Regions from separate parts of the Homo sapiens genome. Here region 2 is linked to region 1. A link means that fine-mapping ties the variant in region 1 to the expression of a gene that starts in the linked region. Tissue or cell type: fibroblasts. Region 1 holds a variant in brackets; the other region holds the start of a gene. All regions are shown on one strand. Distances are between the middles of the regions.

Region 1 (2,763 bases):
AGTCGTGAGTCACCGCACCTGGCCACATCCATCAGTATTTCTAAGTGTAAATAAAATTTGTTTCTATGTGACAAGGTTGAGATAAGCATAGAAGAAAACTGCTGCTGAACCCAGAACCCAGACATAATCATGTAACTGAACTTTCTTGCTGCATCCTATGATAATTCCCTTGTTGCTAGCTTATAAATAGCGGAAAACAGCCACCATTTCTTCAGCTTTTCTCCAGAAGGGCCAAAGATGTTACATTTATTTTTGTTTCTTCTTCTTAAATAATTCTTCATGAATTTCAGTTTCCCAGAAGGCCTCACAATTTTCTAACACCCCAGATACCTTTCTTGGTATTTCATGTCATGGGTTATGTTTATCCAAGGAGACTTTATTCATTGGATTTCTTAATAAGAAAGAATGACTTGATTATTTATGCTCTAATATTCCCTATGCTTTTAAAATTGCTGACCCCTCCCTCCTCCTGTATCATGATACTATCTTGCAGGGAAAGTAGAATCTACTGGATGAAAAGTCCCTCAACCTCCTGCCCCCAAACCTATTGATTTACTCATATCCACATACTACATCACCTCCTCCCCCTTGTGAGGGTGGAAGATAAGTTGTTTTTCCTGTCTCGGACAAAGCATCCTGTCTCCTATAGTACTGCAACAGATTGAATCCAGAAGCCGATAGAAAAAACCCACTGTCATCTGTCGAGCAATGTATTAAAGAGATCTATCTGCAAAATTGTAAAAAGATGCTGTTCTTCTCACCAAATGTTTTTGTTTTGGAAAATATGGTTATGTTTTATAAAAAGATATGACTTATGAAATAGAATTGTTGTTTTTAAATACATAAAAAATATTTCAATAATTTATCAGTTTTACTTTCTAGTATATTAGATATCGGTAGATGTAAGCAACATGCACAAAAACTCTTCGGGGGTCCTCAAAAATGTTTCAGAGTGGAAAGGAGTCCTGAGGGTGAAATGGTTGAGAAGTGCTGGTCTAAAACTCCCCAACCCAGTCAAATCTGGCTTCTGCCCATATCAGTTCACTGAACCTATTTGCTCCAAGGACACCAAATTCAAGGGCAAGTCCTTACTAGACTTCTGGGAATCATTCACACTGTTCTTGACCGTTCTTCTGGAAATGC[T/C]TTTCCTCTGACTTACAGGAGTCCAGAGAGGAACACCATGTACACTACTGGTGTTCTTCCTACCTCCCTGGCTCCTCCTCCTTTATCTCCTTCATGGGCTTTTCTTCCTCTGCCTAACCTTAAAGGTTAACGACCTGTGGGGCCCTCACCTCCTCCCACACTCCATGCTTCTTTGTTTTCCGTTACCGTCTTTAGGCTGGTGACAGCTGTGTTCAGCCCAGATCTTTCTGCCAATCTTCATACCTAAATACTGAGCAGCTTGCTGGGACACCTCTACCTGCCTATTCCACCAGCACCTATAATTTAACACGCCCTGAACTTATCATGTCACCATCACGCCTGCTCCTTCATCTCTATTCTCATGGCCCACACTCTGTCTAGTTGCCCATACCAGAAGTTTGGAAACCATTCTTGACTCTTTCCTTTGTCTTAAACCCTCACTGTCTTTCACAATATCCAAGCAATCTCCAAGCTCTGTGTCATCAGTGTCCTGAATCCTCAAAACAATCTGCTGTTCTCTAACTTCTAACACTGTCCCACCCGGGCCTCCATTGTCTCTACTAATGGCAGTAGTCTCCTAACTGGCTCTTTTCTAGCCTGTTTTCCACTGTGCCACCAGGGTCATCCTTCCAAGGCACAGAGCTCATCAATTCACTATTTCTTCAAGGCCCTGAAACACTTGTCCCCTCCACCTCTCACCTCACTTGCTGCATCTCTCATCACCTGCCCTCCCTCGGCATTCTGTGCTGGCTCCAAGGGCTTCCATGCTGCCATGGGCTCTCCCCTTCAGCCCCTCACACATGCTGATCCTTCATCCTTCATCCTGGGCCACCATCCCTGCCCCATCCCCATTTACACCTTCTTACCCTGAACACAGGCAGTGCTGACTAACTCAACACCGGTCGTTGATATTCAAGTTTAGATTTCTGACACACATCTAGCCTTCTGTAACACCCTATGTGTGCTCTGTGATGGCGTTTGTCAATCCACACATGTAACCGCATGTTTGATGTGACCTTCAGAAGGGCAGCAGCCTTGTCTCTCTTACATGTCATAGAATCCTCACAGCATCCTTTTCCAGCTCCATCACTTAACCACAATCTCTCCGTACCTATTTGTCGAATGAGGAAATTCGTATTTCTTTTCAATTTATCTTTCACTTTAAAGGTGAGCAGATTTACTGATTTTCCTTTGTCAAACAATCACAGGTGGCTTGAGCACAGAAAGGCAGTGATTTCAGTGCTTACAAAAATATAGCATTTATAGGTGTTCGAAGACATGGATATAATTTCACCTACTGCCTGCATGAAAGACTATCTGCGTCCTGATTGGCAATGGGAGTTGGCAACACATTGACCAGGTTAAGTCTTCTATCTATATATGAGGAGGGTGGGGTGTGAGGAATTGACATCTGATCAAAAGTTATTGTCCTAAGAAGTATGTCACCAAAAGTAATTCCATTTTTTTATGTCAAATGTGACCTTTACTTATAAAAACCCTAATGACAAAATAATCCTTTTTAGAAAACTGTTTTGTCACATCTGTGAGACAATGTAACTACAGAAGTTACCACAACACATATGTTCTAATCAAATAATATTGGTAGGTTAGGCTTCCATG
Region 2 (2,763 bases), 280 kb before region 1:
GTGCAGACCCAAACTATAATTATTTTACAAACAATAGAGTTCAAAAGCCAAGGTCCCTCTCGCCCCTTCCGATCCTTGAGTAGTAACTGCGTTCATGCAATTAAACTAGCCTGTTTAATAGAAGCTGCAGGAAAACTGATAACTATGTATTCAAAAACATGTAATTTTATGCCTGAGTTTTAAGTCATTTAGATTTTGCAGATTGCTATTTATTTTATGTTCAGTTTTTGAAATAAATGCTTAAAAAAAACGCTTTAGTACTAGGCTTGAATACTGAAGACTTTAAATATAACAACAGACCAGGAGAGGAGCAGAAGTGTGGGAACTTTAAACCTATTTCTTTCTTAATCCCCTCGGAGAGCTAGACTGGAACACTGGCTGGATCTTCCAACATTTCTGGGGGTGCTCTCTGTTCTTTGCGGTGGCCCTGCCGCCAGGTGAACGCTGCCGGTGGGAGAGCACACACTTAGTGCGGCCAGCTGACCTTCACAGTCTGGGGGGAAATTTTAAAGGATTGTGGAGAAGAGGCCTTGAGACTTCAAGAGGAAGAAGAAAAAGGGGCCCAATGAAGCCTGAGCCTCCCAGGAGGTAGAACTGAGTTAATGAACAGGGCTGATTATCCAAGGTAATTATGTAAAAGAGAAGGCTAGGAGGAGTTCTAGATGGCTGCAACTTGGAGTTTACTCTGCCTAAGGTGAGTGTTTATGTTTCTGTGTTTTTGCTTCTCCGGCAAGGTTTTGTTTTGTTTTGTTTTTTTCTTCCCTGTTCCCTTCACCCAAGGCTCAGTGTGCAAAAGCAGCTCGCTCTGCGTGGCAGACCCCATTCTAATCCTTCTCTTTCCTTAGATTCTGAGCCCGGTTAGAATTAGCCTCCGCATCACGGGCTCCTGGGACCCTCCGCTCTATGCTCCTCGAGGAGGGAGCAGCTGTGTTCATCCCCCTACCCGCAAATGCCTCCGGTTCTTATTTGGCAGACACTCCCGCGGTGCTGCTGTCCAAAGACACACCTTCCCAGCCAGCCCAGTGGTCACGTCTCGCCCCAGCGATTCGGGAGAAGCAGTGGGAACTCTGAGCTCCCCGAATCGAGCCCGCTGCGCCTGGCATCTCCCTTCCCTTCCCCTTGACAAACGACCCAACCTCAATCATCCCTGCTCCTTCCGAACGCTAGTTTTGTTTACGGAGCAAACCGAGGCTTTGAGCAACCTGCGGTTGCACGGCTCTCCTTCGGCTTGGGGAGGGAGGGGTAGCGTTCACAGTTCTCCAGTGTGCCATAGACTGTTAGACCAGATCCTTCAGATCTAGAGGCACACGCAGTGGGTGACAGGAGAGTGCCCCCTCCCCCCGGGCGGGTGGGGGTGGGGAGAGGAGCAGGGACTCGGCTTGGAGAAGGAGGCAGGGAGGCAGCTGCAGTGCTGCGAGGGGTGCGTGCGCGTGTGCCCAGCTCGCCTGCCGTCTCCCGGCTCCGTCTGCGCTCCTCGGTGCGTGGGGCACGAGGGTCCGAGGGCCGGGAAGCCAGAGCAGCGCCTCTCGCCCAGGCCTCGCTTTCTCTGGACGCCCGGCAGTCCCCGGGGCTAGAGCGCACGGGGCGGGGCGCGAGACCCGGGCCGCGCTCCCCGCCCCCGCCTCTTGCGCCCTGCCTGGCTCCCTCTCCATTGAGTTTTCCTGCCTCGGGTGCCTATCAATGGTCCTGCTCGGGGATGCACACGCAGCTCGCGGCCGGAGGGGGGTAGCAGCCGCCGCCTCCAGGTGCAGGTTCTCTCCGGCCGCCGCCGCCACCCGCTGTCGCCGCGACTCGAGCCCCGGGCGCACTGAGGTCTTGGCCATGGGGCTGCGGAGGCTGCTGTTGCTGGCGTGAGAAGGGGCGACGGAGTTGTCGCGCTCGGGGGTCCCCAGCTGCCTGCATGGATGTCTTCAGCTTTGTGAAGATTGCAAAGCTTTCGAGGTAGGGGCTGCGCGGGTTCCGTTTGCACCCAGGGCCGCTGCCGCGGGCAACTTGGTGCCTTATTTTTCGGGAGGCTGGGTAGAGGCAAAAGCTGGAAAGCGCGACGGGGCTTAAGACAAACGAAGTGGCCGGGGGCTTCCACGTTCAACTTATTTCTCACTGGCTGCTGAGGCTTGTGTAGCGGCGGGTGTAGACCACACACAGAGAGGTACATACATGCCCTCACCAACACACCGACATTCACGACAGTTTGTTTTCCCTAAGGAAAAGCCCCAGCGGTGTTTGGGGTCCCATGTATAATTCAGGGCTAAGAGAAGATGGTTGTAATTGCTACTGCTAGGGAAACCCAGAAGTGCTTGGAGCTTGGGTGCCTGCCTTCCAAGCTGCAAAGACCAAAAGTGCCGCCTTCCCCCAACTCCTAAATTACACCTCCACACCTCCACAAAGTCAGCTCCTAGATTGACCAGGTGCTCCCAACGGTAACCTAGATGGCGAAGTCATGTAGATAGAAGAGAAAGACTTTCAGCCTTTTTTTTTTTGGGGGGGGGGTAACTATATTCTTAAGCCTCGAAAGATTTAGAAATTTTCTTCTAAGTGGCCATGTTGTTAAAACAGTAGCTAAAACTAAATCATCGATTCAGACATTTTTGGGTAGTACTGATAAAAGAGGAACATTTCCACGCTTGGGCCGCCTAGGTGTTGCCTGGCCAGAGCACTCCTCCAGGTCTTCTGCCCTGCTTATGCTTCCAAAGTCTTCGTTTGAGCCACAGAGTAAGGTTTGTGCTGCTTGCTATGTGGCATTAATTGGGAAGAGCCCAATAG

Which allele goes with the higher level. Positions count from the first base shown, and alleles are read on the strand shown. Sizes are in standard deviations (SD) of each study's normalised expression.
For the expression in fibroblasts of the gene that starts at base 1,402 in region 2, allele C in region 1 goes with a higher level than allele T (small effect, 0.40 SD a copy in GTEx).

What was found. PIP is the estimated chance that this variant, and not a neighbour inherited with it, causes the effect.
Region 2: FRMPD4 starts here. The variant in region 1 is fine-mapped to the expression of FRMPD4 in fibroblasts (GTEx, PIP above 0.99).

The regions. Positions count from the first base shown.
Region 1 is chrX:12,418,634-12,421,396 of GRCh38, forward strand. The region is part of intron 1 of FRMPD4 (FERM and PDZ domain containing 4); the gene reads left to right. Among named protein-coding and RNA genes, the nearest start is that of FRMPD4-AS1, 45 kb to the left of the region's middle. The variant T/C (reference allele first, on the strand shown) is at 1,144.
Region 2 is chrX:12,137,072-12,139,834 of GRCh38, forward strand. It overlaps FRMPD4 (FERM and PDZ domain containing 4), which reads left to right and starts at 1,402. Exons shown (of 17, transcript NM_001368397.1): 1 at 1,402-1,941. The coding sequence starts at 1,901.